Linked DNA regions of Homo sapiens. The protein of the gene in region 1 interacts with the protein of each later gene in a biochemical or structural test. Each region holds a gene or a part of one and is shown in the gene's direction. Other genes may lie near its edges. The genes, in order: MTPN and REL.

The links.
Region 2: the proteins of MTPN (region 1) and REL form a complex in vitro, tested with the Homo sapiens proteins (one study listed by BioGRID).

The regions. Positions count from the first base shown.
Region 1 is NC_000007.14:135,923,367-135,934,596, reverse strand, and holds the end of MTPN (myotrophin), read left to right. Parts: intron 1-4,584; coding exon 4,585-4,671; 3' UTR 4,672-7,837; downstream 7,838-11,230. UniProt on the Homo sapiens protein: Promotes dimerization of NF-kappa-B subunits and regulates NF-kappa-B transcription factor activity. Plays a role in the regulation of the growth of actin filaments.
Region 2 is NC_000002.12:60,874,961-60,887,200, forward strand, and holds the start of REL (proto-oncogene c-Rel), read left to right. Parts: upstream 1-6,613; 5' UTR 6,614-6,880; coding exon 6,881-6,890; intron 6,891-12,240. UniProt on the Homo sapiens protein: Proto-oncogene that may play a role in differentiation and lymphopoiesis.

The DNA.
Region 1 (11,230 bases):
CTTTAGAAAGAAAACCCTAGGTTGTAGTTGTCCACATGGCAGCCTAGGTAATCCTTGTGTCTCAGCTTTCCTTGCAGTAATTATGGCTGTGTGTCTAACTAACTTTTAGGCTACTGGGATATGCACAAATGATGTGTGTCACTTCCAAATCATTACAAAATATGAAGCCACTTGCTGTGGACTTTTCTCCTTATCTAGAAGGCTAGAAGCAGCTGTAGGACGAGCCAGCTCCAGACATATGGGTGAGGAGTGTACCCATGGGAGATCAACAGAATGGAAGGAACTTAGGTCCTTAGATGACCTTAAGGACAGAGCCACCCTGCCAACCTATGTGCTTGGCACTAAGACTGTTTTATAAGCAAGAAATAAATTAACTTAGTTCAATTCATTGTGTTTTAGTTTCTCTCTGTGGTAGCAATTTACCTTAAGAGTAACAGATTGGTTCATGAATTAGTCTGTTCTTACACTGCTATAGAGAACTACCTGAGACTGAGTGATTTATGAAGAGAAGAGGTTTAATTCACTCACAGTTCCTCACGCTGTACAAGAGGCATGGCTGGGGAGGCCTCAGGAAACTTAACAATCCTGGCAGGAGGCAAAGGGGAAGCAGTCATATCTTCTCATGGTGGCAGGAGAGAGTGTGAAGGGGGAGGTGCTACACACTTTTAAGCAACCAGGTCTCATGAGAACTCTACTCTATCACAAGACAGCACAAGGGGGTGAGGGGTGGTGCCAAACCATTAGCACCCGTGATCCAGTCACCTCCCACCAGGCCCCACCTCCAACATTGGGAATTATAGTTTGACTTGAGATTTGGGTGGGGACACAGAGCCAAACCATTTTAATTCATTAGTTTGTGGGACTGGGGAAAACTCAGGCTGTTACTGTAAGTGTTACCTTCTGATTCAGTCATTTGTGAGGATTGCATAGGGTTGCAATATTGGAACAACAGAGAGAAAATGACTAGTCATATTAGTCTGCTAGGTGCCACCAAGAGCAGTATTTACCTAGAAATAATTTGAACATCACTTACTTAACTATAAGAATTGATAAAAACACAGTTTTTACAGACCAGAATATAAAAGTTAATCTTGACAAAATAGAAAAGCTGGCAAATTAGGAGGTGGAGGGAGTGATGGGAAGGTTGAGAAAGTATCTTATAAAATTACTTCATGAGAATTGATGGAACAAGAAATACAGGTTTAAATAAATATCGTTTACATTTATAAAGAACAAAATATTTTAAGTATAAGAAATTGAGAAGGTCTGGGGAAGGGTGGTAGTGGTGAGCTAAAGGCCTATGTATGTAGCAGGAAGTCGAAAGATAAAATCTAAAGTTATAGCTCAAATATCAGCATGAGTATATTATTTAAAGCTATGCAAATAATTAAAAACAATTAAAAAATGGTTTCTTCAAGGAAGGGATAGGGCCAAATATACTTAAATTCTTCAGTTACTTCAAAACTGGTTCATCTTTTTTTTTTTTTTTTTTTTTTTTGAGGCTGAGTGAGTCTTGCTCAGTTGCCCAAGCTGGAGTGCAGCATCACGATCTCATCTCAGCTCACTGCAACCTCCGCCTCCTGGGTTCAAGTGATTCTCATGCCTTAGCCTCCGAAGTAGCTAGGATTACAGGCGTGTGCCATCACATGAGGCTAATTTTTATGTTTTTAGTAGAGATGGGGTTTTGCCATGTTGGCCGGGCTGGTCTCTAACTCCTGGCCTCAGGTGATCCACCTGCCTAGGCCTCCCAGAGTGCTGGGATTACAGCTGTGAGCCACTGCGCCTGGCCCTAAATTTATTCTTCAGTATTGTATCCCTTTTGATGGTATTACAAATGAAATTTTTAAATTACATGTTTGAATTGTGAACCTTTTATCATTATGAAATGTCCCTCTTTGTCTCTAGTAATTTTTTTTATCTTAAGGCTTCTTTTGTCTGATATAAATATAGTCACTCTACTTCTAATTACTCAACTATTTTTAAAGAAGTATATATGTATATATATTTAGAATAGAAGAGTAGAAGGAAACACTAAGATGTTAACATTAGTTGTATCTAATGTATAGAATTACGAGTTTTCTGCGATAAGTTTGCATCATAATTAGGAAAAAGGTGACATATACATTTTAAAAATATTTTATCTAAATACTTCTGGTTGCAAATAGCAGAGATAGTCAACAAGCAGAAAAGGAATTTTTGAAAAGATGACTGGCCTAGTTGCAGAATCAACAGGAAAAGCTGGGCACCAGGTTGAGAAGAGATTGAGCTGTGGCAACTGCAGGGCTCTGGGTAGCAGGAACTTGTCAGCTTTTTCATCGAGGTGGTGCCCCAGAAATGAGTTCTAACTTCTTATATTCTCTTTTGATCTCTTCAATCAGGATTCAAAATCTAGGAGAGAGTATTCCGCTTTCAAATCTTTGAAATTTGGTGAGGAAAATAAGCATCTCGGTTTTATAATCCCAGGACTATAGAGGACCCTGGGAATGGTTAAGGGGAACAGAAATACAGTTACAATGAATATGATCTAGTATTTGGTAGCACAACAGGGCTACAGTAAATTGTTAACTGTTGTGAACAACTTACTGTTCACATTTGTTAACAATTTACTGTGTAATTTAAAATAAGTAAAAGAGCAGAATTAGAATGTTCTAACACAAAGAAATGATAAGGGCCCTGATTTGATCATTACATATTGTATGCCTGTATCAAAACATCACATACCCCATCTATATATATAACTGTTATGTACCCATAATAATTAAGAATTAAAATTTTAAAAAGCAAGAGGGGACAAATGATTCCCCAAGATGAAATTAGGGTGCTGCCATCAAATGGAGGGAAATAAACTCTGAGAGCTAAAAAGCAACAGAAGTTCACTATAATATGTAACTGTTAATGCAGAATTATAGTTGATAATGCTAGTCATAAAAGTAGCCATCAAAATGAATAAGAAATAACTTTTTTGAATACAGTTATCCCTTAACCATTGTGGCGGGACTCACAGCACTGAAGTTCTCACGCACTGACGTCTCTCCCACTTGACCCTGAATTCCATGTCTTCCATGAAGCAGTTAAATTCATTTAGAAAATGAGGAAATAGAGACTTTTATAATAATACTGAGGAGGACTTTGTGATCATTTAACACTTCCTAAAATGTCATCTCCTCCCTGGTTTACCTAATCAGCCTGTACTTCCTTGTCAAGACTCAGCTCAGGCATTTTACCTCATCCCGGAAGACTTTCTCCCTTAAAACGCCCTCCTGCCACATCCTGTTCTGATTATGGGCCACTCATCCCTGTTACTGTTCTCTTCCCATAGTGTTGTGTTGGCTGAGTTGTCTGACTCTCATACCAGCCAGACTGGCAGACTCTTGTCTTATTTTTCTTTGATTCTCCAGTCCTTTACACAGTATGCGCATATTAAACATTCAGTAAATATTTGTTGAGTGAATGGGTGGATTTGCCAGAGAAGAGGATAAGGCATCCCATCTAGAGCCCGCATGGATAAAGGCATGAAACACAGCAGGAACTGGTGAGAAATTCTGTAGGATTAGAGCATGGAGCGGTTAACTGGAGAAGAGACTGGTAAAGCTGACCAGCGTTAGCCTCTAAAGGACCATATGTGCCAAGTTTAAACAATTCTGTAGGTGTCAGGAACAAGCAGAAGAATGTGTGAGATTTGGCAAGGGGAGTGGGTCAGGACTCTAGAGAATGTGTGGTGAATAAATACTGGCTGGAGCTAGAGCTGGTAAACAGAACCCTCAGATGGTAGGATGTTGTCTCTGGGAGTTAAGAATCAGACCTGGTTTGGGAGCAGATTAACCTACCATGCACCTAGGCACTTTTCCAAGTGCTGGAGTACAGTGGTGAATTACTGCTCCCATGGAGCTTTCATCCAGAAAGGGTAGACAGATGAAACAACATACAGGCACAAAAGGGCACATACACACTCTCAAAACCAGAATGCCGCGTTGCAGATAAAATGTTCCAAGGCAGCACTCTCCAAGTTAAGCGTTCAGAGCAGTCTGGTGTCTGCACTGAATATTTCCCTACAATATCGCAGGGAACCTTCTTATAGTCCGCATCTCAGGCATTTACTGCGAAGTTTTTACAAGTAAAATGACGAATACAGTATTTGTTCTTGATGTATATAATACTGAATGCACTCTACAAAAAGTGTTTCAAATAAGAAAAAAATAATTTGTCACAGGAATACTTTAGCAAAGTGATTTACTTTTTCCCCGTTTCATACTGCACATAGGGATATTATTTTTAAAGCCTAATTAGATAAATATATCTAACTTGCTCAACGTGCTCTTCCTAATCATCTCATCCATGATAGTATAAATAAAAGCCAGTGATTGCCTGGGTTACAATTCTTAGTGCCTGAAAAATAATGTGGCATTTTTATAATTAATCCATAATGTTGCCAACTTGTTTGTTTTTCTGCAGTAGAATAGACTCCACTAGTAAAGGAATTTTTAATTCTTGATGTAAACATTAACCTGTGCCATGTGAGCTAGTCTTACATTCCCTTCCCCCAGTTGTGGGCTCATTTAATGAGCCCTTTCCTCTCTTTTCCAGGGTGCTGATAAGACTGTGAAAGGCCCAGATGGACTGACCGCCTTTGAAGCCACTGACAACCAGGCAATCAAAGCTCTTCTCCAGTGATGGATGGATGGACTGATAACTCCGGAAGAATGACTCTCCTGTGGCCTCACACTGCTGCCTGTCTGTCTGTCACTCTCTATCTGCCAGCTTCTTCAGCTAAATACTTTAAGAGGGGTGAGGGGAGAGAGAAATTCATAACAAATCCGACTACCAGAAAAAAAAAATTGTTTTGGAGGAGGGGCAAAAGGAACCATGATCAGGCTTTTACTGGGATTCCTGATCAAGTAAGCCTCTTCCCTTTCTAATAAAATATACACCTTATACCCAAGGGAGAGCAAAGACAAAATACACCAGTAACATTTGACCTTTTCAGCTCCCTAGCTAATTTATTAGATTGTGTTGAAGGTCTGATTCTACAAAGGCCAACTCTACATATTTGGTAGCCCTAACTGTCTGAGCAGTAGTGGCTGCTGTGATGTAAACTTAGGGTGCTGAGATAAGCAATTAGCTCTAGCCTTCTGCCTTAAGAATGCACTCTACTGGGGATTTCCTGGCATAGTTAAGAGCGCTGCCTATAAGGTTGGTGACCAAATCTTTCCTCGGTGACTTTAAGCTTTATGTGAAAGCTTAGTTAAGGTGAGGAGGGGCACACTCCTAAATTGCTGGATGACTGAACTTTGGATTTTCTCTCCCCTTTCACATGGATTTCATGTCTCTTTAGATAAAACTGACTAGTTTTATTTATAAAATCTTAAGTTTTGGAAGTCTAAAGGAGAAACCATTCCAGTATGCATATTTTTTTCTCCTCTAGATTCATACATTTATATAGCATTGAAACACTTTCAAACTCCTGCTGGTAGTAAAAGGGGATTTAAAAATAGAATCATAGCCATAAGCCTGTTAGTATCATATGAAGAGAGAACAGTTATCTTAGTACCTATGGATTTTCTTTATTTGCTGTTTGAATGGATTGACCTTGGTTATGTGTTGAGAATTAAGGAACATTCTTTGAAATGCCTCTCTCAGACCCATCTTGGAGGCTGATTACTTACTGCACCAAAGCTATCACTGGGGTGAGATTTACTGTTTGGACAAATTTAGCCCCATCCCTTCAAAAATACACTTGTAACCAGGTTTCCCAGAGTTGTTGATAGGCTTCTGCTGAACATATGCCAACCCACCTGCATAATATATTTTTGTTGCTTTTATAAATCATGCATTACATAAAGTGTGACAACTTCAAAATGTATTCTCTGTTCTTGGAATACAGTGCCCTAAAATGGTGTTCTTATGACCTGCAGAAAATATTTACACATATTTCCAAATATTTATTTCATGAGCAGTACAGCTAATTAAAATATATAAGCTTAAATTTTATATCTTACATTTAAAATATTAAGATTCCTTTGACTTGCCATCCATATAAGCTTGCTAAAAATATTAAGACCAAGTCATGCAATAATTGAATGTACCTCAAATTTTTAGGGGAGGGTGGGTTAGGGACTGATACTCAGATTGTGGATAATAATTGAATTGGTTTTTAAAGGCAACATAGCATTCTACAGCAGGGTTAATCTATTATCAAGAACAGTCACCCTGGTTAATAACAAGTTTTACTGATCAGTTGCTGGTTGGTTGGTTGGTTGGCATGTGGGTGTGTGGGTGTATAGGTGTGTGTGGGTGTGTGTGTGTATTTTTCCCCATGAGTCCTTTTTTTAATCCTGTGGCTTTTTCACTTACAACTAGCCTAACCCTGTAATTTTCCTACATCCAAGAAAACAATCACAAAGTAGTGGTTTAAATACTTTGTTGTATTTGGCTAATTTTGCTGTCTTAATGCAGCCTATTAAGAGTTGGGTTAAAAATCAGTAATCAGTACTTTATTACATCACTGAACTAAAATATGGAGACATCCTCATTGAAAATGGAGGGCACTCTATCAGTCTATAACTATCAACGTAGTGCAACAGGGTGTTTTGATACCTTTGTTTTCACCTCTTGACATAATGCTATTTAAAGGCTTGAATTTTTCCCTTTATATAATTTTCACCTTTACTTTCAAAGTGTTTTGTTGTAGTTGGCTATTGCAGAGAGTGCATTGTCCTATCATTCCTAAACCTGGTCTGCTTTCTACATTCATGGTATGGAAACCATGTGATTCTTTGTACAGTTTATCCTGATGTTGCTTGTAATGCAGTAGAGGCTATTTCGCCTTCGCTTTTCTTTCTCGACCTTTTTGTAAACCCTATAATTATGAAGCGATTGCTTGAGAAAATAACATATAAACATAGAATAGAATAGACTGACCAAGATGGTTCACAGTTTCTTTTTTTAACTAGGTTATTTATAATGTATTTCTGAACCACTTGGCAGACAAATTCACAACACTTAATGTTCATATTTTGAGTAAAGGAAGCTAAAACCATGTTTGCTTTCTGGTACTACATGCATTAGCGAAAGGTTAAGTAAGTTTTGTTCTCCACTGAAGTAATACTTAACATCTCAGAAAAAATTTTGCATGTTCTGTAGTTTTGTATTAAATCAGTCATTTCATATGCACTATATCAAGTACAAACAGGTAGTTTACCTGTTTATAGTAGTGTACTAACAAAGTCTCCCTTGCAGCTTCAGACTGTTATCTATAGGCTTATCGTTCAAATACAGCACTTGAATATCCCAAGTAGTTCTTCTACGCATAGCTCACCTTTCTAAACCCAGTTAAGCATGGAAGAGAGGTAGTAGGTAGGTGCAGTGTGTGGAAGCTGCAAACAAGTAGGCCTTTTATTCATTGATATCTTTTCCCAAGTACTGGATTTTAAATCTGTATGTATCTGTTTGATTTTTTTTTCTAATATTTCAGTTGAGCTGCTGTTTTCTTCCATGCAATATTGTATACTCAATTGTGTATAGAAGAAGCTGGTGAGAGTGCCCTCCTACATAAATAAGCAATTGCAGTGTTTTGCATGCAAAATATAAAAAATTTAAATTGTCCTGATTCTATTTTGTAAATGGAGAAACAATCATATCTTTCTAAGCGGTAATGGAGGAAGACTAGTGCTTTGTGCATTTTGATATATTTGAGTTCATTTTTTCCACAATGTCATACTTTTGACGCAGTTGGGTTTCTCATAAGTATCCTAGTTCATGTACATCCGAATGCTAAATAATACTGTGTTTTAAGTTTTGTGTTGCAAGAACAAATGGAATAAACTTGAATTGTGCTACAGCTAATGTGTCAGCAGCATTTTTCTCAGTTATTATCACCTTCCTTTTGTAGTCATCTCTACAACTATACCAGAAGCTTGATTGACTCAAACATTTAGTTAATCTTATCCCACTTCTAGAAAAAAATGAGTGGAGGGAAAATAAAACATAAAGATTTAATTGAAATAAACCTTACCAGTCTTTGAAAGGATTTGCTTTTGTGTCAGTCTCCTGACATTGTTTTACTGTAACTTCAGTAACGCTCCTGGTTGACGGGGAGCAGGGTGTAGCCAGCACATCCCAGATCGTCAGGATCTTCAGGGGGCTTGAAGAAAATGGAGTCGTGGTTAAACCTCTGATCCTTTCATTGCTCATCTAAGTTGCTCCACATTTCTTGGAGATCTGCATTTCCCAAACTCAACTACGAGCACTTTTTTAGAGTGTAATTTTCAGGATGAGTGATCACTTTGAACCTTAAAACTGAACAAAATTAAATACAAAATCAGTTTGATTGTGTTGTAATCTTGTTAGCACCAGAAGACTATTGCAGTTTACTTTTAGTGATAGAAAAAAAATATATATGTGCAGATACTAAGTTACAGCAAAAGCTGTATTTTAGAACTTTCACATTGTTGACTGAAGTATAAATGGGGACCATGTACGGCTTTAGGTGGAAGTGATTACAGAAATTTTTTTAAGTTCTCATTTTAAGAATTGGAATCTAGGACCGGCGCAGTGGCTCACGCCTGTAATCCCAGCACTTTGGGAGGCTGAGGCAAGGAAGATCACTTGAGCCCAGGAGTTCGAGACCAACCTGGGCAACAGAGGGAGACTGAGTCTCTACAAAAAATTAAAAAACAATTAGCTGGGTATGGTGGCAAGTGCCTGTAGACCCAGCTACTTGGGAGGCTGAGGTGGGAGGATTGCTTGAGACTGAGAGGTTTGAGGCTACAGTGAGTGAGCTGTGTTTGTGCCACTGCACTCCAGTCTAGGCGACAAAGCGAGACCCACTCTGAAAAAAAGAATTGGGGTCTGTAAAGAAAGTTTAAATCTGGTTAAATACATTTTAAAGGGAATAGAGTCCCCTTATATAATGATTGAAGAACAGACCAGCATATGTGGATGGAAGGCACACACCTGGTGGAAAGAAGGAGCTTAGAGGGAAATTAGTTTGCCATTAGAGAATAGCTGTCATAGGACTTTTCATGCAGCACAGTATACCAGACCACCATAAGATTTTTTTTTTTCTCTTTCTGTAGCATCAGTGATTCTCAAAATGTGGTCTCTACACCAACAGCATTGCCATAACCTGGAAGCTTGATAAAAATGCAAGCTTTTGGACGCTAGCCAAGACCTACTGAATCAAACTCGGGCTGGACCCAACAGTCTATGTTGTAACAAGCCCTCTAGGTGATTCTGATGCGTGCTGAAGTTTGAGGACCATTGAATAAGACCATAAGAGCAAGAAACAGTCAAATAGCCTATAAATAGATGCCATCAGGCATGACTTCCTAAAGAGAAAGTAAATGGAAGCCTTTAACATGTGAAATGTAGCAAAACTGGCCAAGTTTTGAAGCTCCAGATGTCCAGGAAAATCTTTAAAAATGAGTTTCAAAGGTATATTCTGGCCAAAAGAAGTCAGGGTGAAATGTAACAATGGTTCCAAAGGTGTAATACTGGTGAAAATGACCCTTAGTTATTCTTAGGAGGTTTTTCCGCCTTATGTCCCCAAAGCTGGATTCCTGAGACTCAAGCCTTACCCTTACCTTACCTTTCCTTGAATTCCAAAGTAAAGTGGAAGGTGGAAGCCAGGCACAGTGGCTCACGCCTGTAATCCCAGCACTATGGGAGGCCAAGGTGGGCAGATCACTTCAGGTCAGGAGTTTGAGACCAGCCTGGCCAACATGGGAAAACCCCATCTCTACCAATAATACAAAAATTAGTTGGGTGTGATGGCGCACGCAGCTCCTTGGGAGGGTGAGGCACAAGAATCGCTTGAACCCAGGAGGCAGAGGTTGCAGTGAGCCGAGATCGCACCACTGCACTCCAGCCTGGGCAACAGAATGAAACTGTCTCAGAAAAAAAAAAAAGTGGAGGGCTGGGAGAGACATGTAAAGAATTCTTGGGACCTATGACATGAACTGCAGTCTCATGCTTTTTATATGCAGGTCATTGTGGGGTGCAGGACTGGCAGGCAGAGCCACTCTGGGAGGAAGTCAAAGGCTGCTTTCTCAGCCCAATGCCCCGTTTGCTGTCACAGTGTGCTGTGAAGATGGATTCCCCACTGCAGTGGGTGTGCTGCTGGCTTGGAAACAGCAGCCTTGGGGTGGCCAGGTTCCCTGGAGTGGAGTGTCCCAATTTCTCTGCACAGTGGAGTGGCTTTTGCCCTCCGTTTTTCTTTATGGGTGGCCACTCATCCTATCCAACTAACTAGGTCCTGTGTCAGGTCAACGATCTTACCCAGATACCAGCCAGATCATCACACATCAGCCATGGGATATTTTTCTCCAAGGCTTTTACTTCCTTAAAATATGATTGCTGATTGAGAAGAGAGAATTTAACAACAGCTTTAATAGCACCTGGCCCTCAATAGACATTTCACTGTGTTTGTTCTGAATGATGACGTAAAACCATTATACAGTAAAATGTGAAAACAGCTTTGATTCAGTAAATCCTGCCCTAGAAAAGACTATTAGAAGAGCCATGAGGCTACCTGTGTCCATGTACCCAAATATTGACCATGGAGCCTCATAAGTACTACTGATATTGATTGCAAACTGAAATCAATGATGTGAAGACAAATATCACAGAGTCACAACAATTCACTGAGGAAATGCTGAGCGTGGGTCAAATGCAGGTCACTGTGAGACATCATGACACATACTCAGGCACAGCTATACATGACAAAGCAAAACAAAGCATTGTCTGGCCACTCCAGCAACTTCTATGATTCAGCAGCTGAAGCAGCAAGGATGGTCTTATTTCCACTGTTTTGATAGAACAGTGGATCACGTGTCTGGCAACACTCGTAGCAACAGCATCTTGTCACACAAAGGAAAATAATACATAGACAATTCCTAGCCACCAGATGTTGGTTTTGAGAATACTACTAGATAGACTTTTTTTAAATAAGCTATATTTTTCTTCTTTTTTTTTTTTTTTTTTTTTTGAGACAGAGTCTTGCTTTGTTACCCAGGCTGGAGTGCAGTGGTGCAATCTTGGCTCACTGCAACCTCCGCCTCCCGGGTTCATGCGATTCTCCCTGCCTCAGCCTCCTGAGTAGCTGGGATTACAGGCACCCACCATCACACCTGGCTAATTTTTGTATTTTTAGTAGAGACGGGGTTTTGCCATGTTGGCCAGGCTGGTCTCGAACTCCTGACCTCAGGTGATCCGCCCGCCTCGGCCTCCAAAA
Region 2 (12,240 bases), on another chromosome or scaffold:
TTATGATAAAACAGGAAAAAAACCTGCCAACATTTCTGAGGGCTTTCCCTGTGTCAGGCACTTTGTATTAGTGATCTCAATTAGCCCTCACAAGAAGCCTGTGAGGTAGGTACCATATTACTACCCCTATTTTACAGATAAGCAAACAGGCACAGAGAGGCTAAGGGACTTGCCCAGAGTCTCACAGCTAACAATCTAGGACAAGCTAAGATTCAAATCCAGGCCTGTGTGTTTGCAAAGCCAGGGCCTTTAGCTGTGAAACACAGAGAATTCCGCAGATGTTTTTCAGAGCCTCCATTAAATATTACTGAGTATTATAAAACTTCTAGAACATAGGAAAATATTTTCATAACCTCAGTCCAAGAAGAGTTCTCTAACATTCACAAAAAACACTATCAAAGAAAATAAATCAGACTTAATTAACACTAAGTTAAAAAGCTTCACTAAGATAATGAAAAGGCAAGCCACAGACTAGGAGAGGATACTTGCAATGCATATATTTTATAACAATTCTGTGGCATCCATAGAGGTGCTCTGCTCAGATCTCCATTCTAGAGAGGATCTGCCTCAGCTTTCAAGCCAAAGCCACATATTTCCTTGGAGCCACCTACCCAATTATTAAGTACAGAGGTAGTATAAGGGCTAACTATCTCTGTGCACAGTGTTTGTGTTAGAGCTCCCCATTGGATTTACTGAGACTTCCTCAAAGATGCACTCCCATCTCATTTTCTTTCTACCAAATTTACCTTCCTTCCCCCTTTCTTTTCACCAGTGTCAGACCTGCATCTTAAGATTTTCCCTGCCTATAACTTTTTTCTTTCCCCTTTATCTTTCATAGATGTTACCCCCAATAAATCTCTTGCACTGTTAATTTCATATTGGTACTTGCTTCCCAAAGGACCCAACTGGTATACTCATATCCAGAATACATAAAGAATGTCTACAAATCAATAAGAAAAAGATAGATAATCCAATTTTTTTTTTTTTTTGAGATGTTTTCTCGCTCTGTCCCCCGGCTGGAGTGTAGTGGTGTGATCTTGGCTCACTGCAATCTCTGCCTCCCAGGTTCAAGCGATTCTCCTGCCTCAGCCTTCTGAGCAGCTGGGATTACATGTGCGTGCCATCATGCCCAGCTAATTTTTGTATTTTTAGTAGAGACGGGGTTTCACCATGTTGGTCAGACTGGTCTCGAACTACTGACCTCGTGATCTGCCCACCTCGCCCTCCCAAAGTGCTGGGATTACAAGCGTGAGCCACCGCGTCTGGCCCCATTTTCTTTTCTAATGTGCAAAAGACTCAAACAGGTACTCTGCAAAGGAGGAGAGCCAAATGACTAGTACATTTGTAAAAAGGTGTTCAGTATCTTGGCCAGGCACAGTGGCTCACGCCTGTAATCCCAGCACTTTGTTAGGCAGAGCGGGGTGGATCACGAGGTCAGGAGTTGGAGACCAGCCTAGCCAATATGGTGAAACTCCGTCTCTTCTAAAAAAAAAAAAAAAATACAACCGGGCGCAGTGGCTCACGCCTGTAAGCCCAGCACTTTGGGAGGCCAAGGCAGGCGGATCACCTGAGGTCGGGAGTTTGAGACTAGTCTGACCAACACGGAGAAACCCCGTCTCTATTAACAATACAAAAATAAAATAAAATAAGACAAAACAAAAATACACAAATTAGCCGTGCACAGTGGGCTTGCCTGTAGTCCTAGTTACTTGGGAGGCTGAGGCAGAAGAATCGCTTGAACCTGAGAGGTGAAGGTTCCAGTGAGCCGAGATTGCGCCACTGTACTCCAGCCTGGGCGATAAAGCAAGACTCCGTCTCAAAAAAAAAAAAAAAAGAAAGAAAGGAAAGGAGTTCAGCATCTCTAGTTATCAGGGAAATGTATATAAAAACCACAAGAAGGTACTGCTACACCTCCATCAGACTGGCTAAAATTAAAAGGACAATACCAAGTGTTGGTGAAACAAATGGAATTATCTTAAGTTTTGTTGTTGTTGTTGTTGTTGTTTTTTAGAAGGAGTTTCACTCTTGTTGCCCAGGCTGGAGTGGAGTGCAGTGGTGCAATCTCAGCTCACTGGAACCTCCGCCTCCCGGGTTCAAGCGATTCTCCTGCCTCACCCTCCCAAGTAGCTGGGATTACAGGCATGCGCCACCATGCCGGGCTAATTTTGTATCTTTAGTAGAGACAGGATTTCTCCATGTTGGTCAGGCTGGTCTCGAACTCCCGACCTCCGGTGATCCACCTGCCTCGGCCTCCCAAAGTGCTGGGATTACAGGCGTGAGCCACCGTGTCCGTCCGGCCTCTTAAGTTTTTTTGTGGGAGTATAATTTGGTACAACAACCCTGGAAAACTGGCAGTGTCTACTAAAACTAACATGTATTTACCATATGATCCAGCAGTACTACTCTTGGGTGTATATCAACAGAAATAAGTGCTTATAACCACCAAAAGATGGACAACTATGTGGACACAACTCAAATATTTATCAACAGTAGACTGGATAAATAAAATGTGCTATATTCATACAATGGATTTCTCCCCAATAATGAAAAAGAATGTACTACTGTCACACAGTACGGACATGACACATACAATTGTTAAGTGAGAAAGTCATACTTAAAAGAGTATACACTGTATGAATCCATTCATATCAAGTTCAAAAACAGATACAACTAATTATTGTCAAGGAGGTCAGAATATCGGGTGCCTTTTGGGGGTGGATATTGACTAGAAGCAGCTCCGAGGCAGCCTTCTGAGTGGCTGGCTAGAAGCGTTCTGTATCTTAATCCGGGTAGTGGGTTACAAAGACTCTCCTTGATGACACTCTGAAGAGGCTTCTCTGAGCCCTGTTCTCCACTAGGCTTCAGCCTTGGCCTGTAACTACTGCAGATACTGAGCACACATTATTTTATCCATGCCCCACACTAACAGACCTAAACAAATACTAGCATGCCCCTAGGATGATGACTTCGGTCACCTTTAGTTACTGCCTGGGAAAGCTCAAGAATGCCAAAATAATATATGTTTGTTCCAGTTCTATGAACCTATGGTGACCACAACGTTTGATTTTATTCTGAAACTGTTGTTAACTGTATCCATTCAATTTAATGATGGGTGTCTTGTTCTTTCAACAACAAAAAAATATCTTATGGAGCAATTTCACTTTTGACCCCTCACTCTTACTTTTTCATATTCTGCGATCACAGACTCAGAACACATCCATTTGCTAATCAGATTTGTTTCTTTCCTGGAGGATTGTGACTTTTTAACTGCTGCATCATTAAAAAATTTTTTTTCATATGTTTAAGGTAAGTTCTTTAGCATCAACAGTTCTAAAGGTTCTAAAGGTTCTCTGCCCTTTCAGATCAGTGCCCACTGTTTTATAACATATATTTGTAACATCCCCTTTAGTAGGTTGAAGTGAAATTCATAATCTACCTTACATGAATATTTTCAAATAAATAAAAATTATGTTCTAACAGCAATATCAAGAATTAAAAAGAAAGCAATTTCTAGGAAAATAATATCGACTACAGTATGTAAATGCTTGGGCATAACTACATCAAAAGACATAATGGGGCCAGATGCAGTGGCTCATGCCTATAATCCCGGCACTTTGGGAGGCTGAGGCGGGAAGATCATTTGAGCCCAGGAGTTCGAGACCAGCCTGGGCAACATAGCAAGACCCCGTCTCTTAAAAAAAAAAGACATAATGGGTTGGGTGTGGTAGCACGGGCATGTAGTCCCAGCTGTTTGGGAGGATGAGGTAGGAGGATAGCTTGAGCCCAGGAGGTGGAGGCTGCAGTGAGCTGTGTTCATGCCAGTGCATTCCAGCCTTGGTGACAGAGCAAGACCCTGTCTCCAAAAAAAAAAAAAAGACATAATGAAGTTGCCAGATGTTTGTACTTGTACCTAGAATCAGTGTGAATGCAAGTGCTGCAAATGCAGCCTGATACTACTGTGGTTTTTTGTTTGTTTGTTTTCTGAGACACAGTCTTGCTCTGTCATCCAGGCTAGAATGCAATGGTGTGATCTCGGCTCACTGCAACCTCCACCTCCCCAGTTCTAGCGATTCTCGTGCCTCAGCCTCTCAAGTAGCTGGGATTACAGGAGCACACCACTACGCCCAGCTAATTTTTGTATTTTTAGTAGCGACAGGGTTTCACCATGTTGCCCAGGCTGGTGTTGAACTCCTGACCTCAGGTAATCCACCCGCCTCGGCCTCCCAAAGTTCTGGGATTACAGGTGTGAGCCACCACAGCTGGCATACTGTGTTGTATTGATGAGCTGTCAGAGTTACAATTTTCCAACTTTTAAAACATTTTTTAATAAAAGTCTGCCCTCAATTTATACAATATTTGCATTCCTGGGAAATTCAGTATATATTAAAAACCATACAAAAATATTTTATATCTATATATGAAAGGGAGTTGTGTTCTAACCATATATTATTAAAATAGGCATTTCAACTACATGAAAGTGAATGTTTGATGAGACGTTTGAAGGTCATGAGGATGAGGGACAATTCTTGACTGTGCTCTTTCCTATCTCAAGGACCTGCTGCCTGCTGTTCCCCCAGCTGGAATGTTCTTTCCCTGAATCTCCCTGTGAATGGCCTTTTTTTTTTTTTTTTTTTTTTTCTGAGACGGAGTCTCGCTCTGTCGCCCAGGCTGGAGTGCAAGTGGCATGATCTCGGCTCACCGCAACCTCCGCCTCCCAGGTTCAAGCAATTCTCTACCTCAGCCTCCTGAGTAGCTGGGGTTACAGGCGCCCGCCACCACGCCTGGCTAATTTTTGTATTTTTAGTAGAGACGGGGTTTCACCATCTTGGCCAGACTGGTCTTGAACTCCCAACCTCGTGATCCACTTGCCTCAGCCTCCCAAAGTGCTGGGATTACAGGCATGAGCCACTGCGCCTGGCCGGCTCTTTCTTAAACTGAGGACTCAGCTCAAATGTCACCTCCTCAGAACTTTCCTCTCCCCCAGTCACTTTTCATTTTGAAATTCCTTCAGAGAACTGAAAATGTTTTCCGTCTCTTTGAAATGTATGTACATATTTTAAAAAGCTAAATAAGCCTCTTGCTAGTTTTGCGTCCTCAGAAGGTCTTTCTTGCGGGCCTCGGAGCCATCTCTTGGAAATGTGAACATCAAGGATGGTGCTCCATGTTTCTGTCTCTAGGAGGGTTTAAGCCTTGGCTCTTGGTTCCAAGATAACTTCCCATTATTTTCCTTTGGATAAAGACAATTAATAGGTATGTAATGGATTGTACGTGCCTGACCATATGAAAAGGTGAGATTTCCTTTTTTTTGGTCTTTGCACTCTCTTCAGTGGATTGCCTGTGATGTGCATCATGGTACGTTTTAGTACATATCCAATAATAAAACTGTTTCATTCTTTTGTTGTACATTGCGCATTTCGTGGAAAGAACAGTTTGGGGTTGGCAGGATATTTTAAATTATTTGCCCATATGGGTCCCCCAGTTTTGGGCACTTGTATGGCAGGCTGATATTCCCCATTACCTCTCCGTACTAATTTTAACTAGTAAGGGACAGGGGCAAGGGCATGGAGCTTTGGAGTCAGACAACCCTGGCTTTAAACTGTGCCTTTTATCAGCATTCTGAAGTACTGTATGTTGAAGTAACTTCTCTGAACCCCGAATACTTCATCTATAAAGTTAGGAATAATAAATACGTCATAGATTAAGTATGGACATTATCTGATGCATAGCAGGTACTATTCAAATGAAGGAAACGAAGTTATCCTAGGTCCTTTAATGCACTAAATGTGTGCTCCATTTCCGCCTTTCTTGGCATCTGTGTGAAATCTCAGGATATAGTGTCCACTAAACTTCAGTGCACTGCCTAATGAGACAACGAACTCCAAGTGCGGACCTTTTGAGTTTAAACGGGTTTCAGTAGGTAAAATACGTAAAGTTCACAGTACCCTCGCAATTTAGATGGAGGAAAAAAAATCAGTCGGGGGGGGGGTCCCCGTATGCAAATACAGGAATTACAGAAGAAGACAGGACCCCCGCCGCAGCACCACTTCCCCCTACAGGGCGCAACGTCCCGCCGCTGGCGCGGGGGTGGAGATTTGCATGTGCGAAGTCGGGAAGAGGGGGAACCACCTCTCGAAAACCCCGGCCGTCGCCCTCCCAGGCCGGGAGAGTCGGCCCCGCGCGCCCCCAAAAGCTCCCCAGCGGCCGGCCCTCTCTACGTCATCCGCACCCTCCCGCCCGCTCCTGAACTTTAAACCACACTCGGAAGAACAACCTGGAGGAGGGGGATTTCTCAGGAGCCAGCGGCCTTCTCACGCTGCTAGCCGTCACCTCCCGGCTCCCGCCGTTCCCTGCGCTCCCGAAGCCCACCCCAAGCTCCCGCTCCCTCGACCCCCTCCCAAGCCAGCCGCCGCAGCAGCGCCGGGGGCGTATGCGTGGGGGCCGGCGGGGAGCGTGCGCGGGGACAGGCAGGGGCGGGGCGCTGGGGGCGGTCGCGCGCGCGGCGGCCGCGAGGTCGCCCCGCCCACGCCTCCGGGTGAGGGTTGCTGCGTCGGGCCTACGTCAGCCGCGGGAAATTCCCCTCCCGCCAGGCTGCTCGCCTCTCGGCTGGGCCAGCACTCGGCTCTCCCCGCTCCGCCCCCTGCCCCTGGCTCCCGTACGGTGGACGGCGACGCTGGGTGACCCGGGGTGCAAGAATTCAGGGGTTGGGAAGGTGTGAGCCGCAAACCCAGCGGAGGGCGGGAAGAAGGAGGAGGCCTCTAGGGTGGTCGGGGGACTGGGGGCCCCGCCGGCAGAGGTCCCTCGGCCTCCTGACTGACTGACTGCGGCCGCCTCCGGCCAGGACGCTGGGAGCTGCCTGCGGGAAGGTGCGGGGAGCGGAGCCATGGCCTCCGGTGAGTGTTCATGGGGCGCGGGCCTGGGCCGGGGGAAAGGAGCTCTTCTGAAGGGGGTCCTGCCGCAGTGAGTTTAGGGAGCTCAGTTTTTGCTGGGGCGCGTTCTGTCTTTAAAATCTCATATGGTAAAATTGTCAGCTTTTAAAAAAGTTACCTGCTTCAGGGTTTGCGTGCAGAATCCAAGCCACGCTCTGTAATTCGATCCTGTTGTCATAGCAGGAACCTTAGAAATTCCCAACGACTTGATTTTAGGATTAGGGAAGTCATAAGCGAACCAAAGGAGGACGAAGAGTTCTCATTAAAAATGTATATGTATTGAAGATGGTGGTTTTATGTTTTAGAACAGGAATGAGGAACCTTCAGACCTCGGGCAAGCTCTCTCCCCCTTTTTAGTTTAATTTCATCAAATGCAAAGAGGTGATCCCCCTTGTACTGACAGTTGTACAAAATGTGTCACGGCTTTAAAAATCATCCGTGGTATTTTAACACGAATTAGAAAATCCGTGGTATTTTAAGTGTTAATGTTGCTTCGACCAAGTGTAGGCCGGGCGCGGTGGCTCATGCCTGTATTCCCAGCACTTTGGGAGGCCGAGGCGGGTGGATAACCAGAGGTCAGGAGTTTGAGACCAGCCTGGCAAACATGGTGAAACCCCGTCTCTACTAAAAATACAAAAATCAGCGGGGCGTGGTGGCGCGCGCCTGTAATCCCAGCTACTCGGGAAGCTGAGGCAGGAGAATCGCTTGAACCTGGGAGGTGGAGGTTGCAGTGAGCCGAGATCGCGCCCCTGCACTCCAGCCTGGGCGACAGAGGGAGACCCTGTCTCTATTTAAAAAAAAAAAAAATGTAGTTTTTACTGTGAGATAAAGCTCAAGGTTCCTAATCTGACGAATAGAGACGTTGAATCCCCCTTCCTCCTCGCTGGAAATAAGGGGAAAGAGGAGTTTTAGAATATCCGAGCTTTAAAATAATGAGTAGGAATGAATACAACTTTATCACTTATGTGACTATATATTTTCCCTTAATAAATGCTCGATCTCTCCCTTTGGGGGGGAATAAGTTTGTAAGAAACATTGCAGAGCAAGAAAGTCTCCTATATACACAGATGTGGTTGGGGCTGCCTGGAGCTTAAGGTTGAGGGGGACGGGAGAGCCGGGGCGGGGGGATAAATCAAGTAGCCTGGGGTCGAGTTGGTCTTTTACCAGGATTTTGGCAAGGTGAGTGGGGGACACTTTCCAGACAGAGGAAGCAGCGTGAGCAAAGGCAGGGAGGGCTAAATGCATGTTAAATGCTGTACTAAGAGAATGAAGAGGGGGCCCCGTTTATGAACTTGACTCTTATCCCCAAACTGCCTGGTCCAGTGACCCTCAGAAGTAGGCTGATGTCTAGTAGAGATGAGGAAGTAGGAAGCTTAAAGAACCTTTTTAAAAGGTTGAGCAGAACAATGCCATAGCTATTGCTGTAGGCAGAAAAGGAAATTGGGGTGTTTCACATGACATTTGATTTCAGTTTGTTTGTGGTTGTGAGAATACTAAGTGTAGTTTAAAATATTTCAACTTTCCCTTTTCCCACTTAAGTGACACCAGACTTTCAGATAATCGTGTAAATTTATGAATTCAAAGCATGTGTAGATTAGAAGTGCTAAGATGACTTCAAATATTTTGTTAATGTATTGGTTATCAGAAAGATTTTGTTTGGAAGTAATGGAGAATGCCTAGCATTATAAGTAAGTTCAGGCTCTTGGCGATTTAATCAAACTTTATTGATATATTGCATGAATTTAATACTTCTAATTTTTTCAGTTGAGAGAGGAAACAACCATTTCTATATAGAGTATTGTAAGACCCACAGGATTTTAAAATTTGATACAATTTAAATTTGTTCATTGACACTGTATTTTGTGCTGTTGTGAGGAGGAAGGATTCCCTAAAAGTAAGGAGGAAATGTTTAAAGAAATGGAAAGTTTTAAAGGTTTAGAAGTTGAAGGGTGATTAACTTTTTTTTTTTTTTTTTTGGTCTTTTCTAAGAGTTGCATTAAAATGGGACTATTTAAAATGTAACAAGTTATTTAAATTGTAATTCAGTTGTTAGAAAACTGCCAGGCCTGGAATAAAAAAAAAAAAATGTTTACAGGAATCTGTGTACTTTTCCTTAATCTGTTATAAAGACCTTAGAGAAAGAAAAAGATTCACTAATAAAATTCTAAATTCCTATTCTGTTTTGAAACAGTAATTTAACCGGAAGAGTGACCAAAAAAAAAAAAAAAAAGAAATTGCTTAGTTTTTCATTGTCTAGTTTAGATTCTGTTTGTAGTAAGGTAGTATTAAAACCTCAGAAAGTAACTTTTATTCATTACGAAGTATTTAAGAGCATTTCTTCATTTCTTACCAGATGTCATATGTAAATAGGTATATGTAGTTGAATATGTGATAGCTATAATGTAAAAGTAACATAAATCATAATCTTATAAGCAAAATTATGTAAGTTAGAATGTAGTTTAAAATCATGTATATAATATGATTCTAAATTTTGTTTAGATAAGTTAGCAGATTAATTAGGATTTCACAGCTTGTATTAAGCTGCCTTTCGTTGCTTTTTAAAAAAATTACACCTTGATCACAGTCTTTTGACATAATTAATAATAGATATAGTGAAGAAAAATGTTCCCAAACCCATCTAAGGTATGCATAGTAGGCAGTTGTTGCTTTTGTATATTTATTCTATTTAATATAAGTAAAATTAGATATTTTATGTCTGAATTTAAACCTTCTCATTGTTCCAGTAAAAAGAGCAAAATGTCTTTGTGTGGCATATAGCTCTGTTAACTAATAATTAGTGCTGTCTTTGGTAAAATGTTTTAAAATTTAGATAATTTATTTTTCTTCACATTTTTCTTAGTATGGTTCTTCTGTGTCACACAATAGGAAGGAAGTACAGAAATGAATTGTTTTTGTAAACCTCACTTCTTACCAACTATTTGTAGTGTGAATTTCAAGAGAATTGTTGTTTTTCTCGATTAAAGGGGAGAAATGGAAGTAAGTGTGAGGCAACTTAATCTTTAATAACAGAGCTGGAAGTTAGGAATGGATAGCTACAGTAAATGACTTCTTTTTTTAAGTAAAATGCCACACATGAGCATGAATGTTTCAGAAATGCAACACATGAAAAAATAGAAATAACAATGGAGTTAAATAATTAAGGTGACGTATGATAGGCACAGATAAAGGGAATGAGTTAATGTAATGACTAGGGAGGAGCCAGACAATGAATCATAATTAGGAACATCTAGGTTATGCATAGTATCTTTCTCAAATACAATTTAAGGGACTCAGAATTTCATTTTGTTCCAACTTTCTCTCATATGGGTTCTCTGAAAATGATTTTGTTTGTAGGCACATGACCCAAATATTGCATGGGATAAAATTGTTTTTCTGAAATTCATATTTATCTGGGCCTCCTCTGTTTTTATTTTTAAAACAGAGGTGATTTGGTCTTGCCATTTGTTTTTAACTTTAATACCTGTATAATCTAGGACAGCTTTTAAAATTTATTTATTTTACCCTGGCACGTGCAAGAGTTTTTTCAAGACTTACCTTTTTTCCCCCTTGGTAACAGAATCCCTATTGCCAGAATCTTTTACAGTTTTTACCTTGTAGTGCATAAATCAGTTGAATACTCATCTGAAAATTTCCTTTCTTTGATTCTTAAGGCCCAGTTGAAAGTCAGCCTGATGTATTGGAGTAATAAAGTCAGCCTGATATATTGGCATAGCCTTTGGCTGATGAGAGACCTAGTTTGAGGAAAAAAATAATAGATCTTATTTTCTTTTTCTCCAAATTGAGTAGAGGTGATATTTGGAAAAATATATATTGTTAGCTCCATTGGCTCCTTTAGGTCTCAGGCAAAGTCTGTCACCGAGGACCTTTATGAGAGACATGCAGTCTAGTCAGCTATTCTCAACTGTGGTGTTGACACACTGGTGTGACAATCATTTGTGTGATGTGTTGCAAGAGTTAAAATATTTGTGTTGTAAATTATTTACTTTTTAAATAAATGAAAGCATTTGAAGGTTATCTCTATATTGTCATTTTTTCTTGCTTGCATTTGAATAAGGTTCTTTTTTAAGTGGGAGATAAACACAAGTTCAAGTTACAAGTAGCCAGAATTGCTTTGCCTAATTTACTCACGTCCCAGTCCATATTTGTACCTGAATTTTTAGATTACTTCTCTCAATATGTGCATTGTTGCTTCCACTTCATGTTTTAAGACAATTATTCTTAATCAGGAGTGTGTTAGAATTTCTTGGAAGGCTTTTTCAGCAACGTGTATCTGGGCTTTAAAAACTATGAAGATTTCTTTATCTTCTAAACATCTCAAGTGGGGTAAGGACATGTATGTTTTGAAAAAACTACCTAGGTGATTCTGATGTACATCCCCAGTATGAACTCTGTTCTAGGGATTTCTTTGGATCTAAATACTCATTTGGCTATACCAGGATGCATTATCTTCTTAAATTAAGTTGCATTTATTTTAGATTGCAGATTATGTGCTGTATCAGTTATTACCTCCAGTTGCTTTTATGCTTGTTTTTTAAATTTGGCACTGCCATATTAGCATACCATTCATAATTCATTTTTATTATAACTTCATATAATTTTCAACTTTAGTTTTATCATGTGTAAGATGGGATAATAATTTCTATTATTTTTCAAATGGAGATTAAAGTTAAGAGGATCAAATGAGAAATGTATATAAAGGGGTCTTAAAATAATGTTATAATTACAATAATTAGCTTTTTTTTCTGTATACTTGATGCTGGTTGCTAATTCTAGCAATAAAGTGTTTGTTAATAATGTGTCTATTTCCGATAATTTATGATCCATTTAAACATTTCAATGTAATTTTTTTATTTTAAAAGCTCATGCTTTATTAGATAGGCACTATGTTTTAAAATAGCACTCTTTCTTGCCTAAGCGCAAATAAAAACATAGATATATCTTACAAACATTTTGGCTGTATTTTAGAAGTTATTCTGATGTATATTAGCCTTTTAAAATACTATTCAGAATATAGGGGTCAGTCCCAGCTTTGCATAGTGTTGCTTAAAGAAAAATACAGTAATCAATTTGTTTAGAGTCAATTTTGGAGACGTTTTGGTGCTTTTCAAAACTGTGGCGATTTGAGGTTATCTTAGTTAAGAGTACTTATTTTCCCTACAATTTCCTGATTTATGTTTTACCCTCTTGCACTCCATAGATGACTACATTTCAACACATTTTATATTCAGGAAGAATGGCATTGTGCAAAGCACAGTACTGAGGAAGGAGATAACTGGTGCATTGTACTGATGCA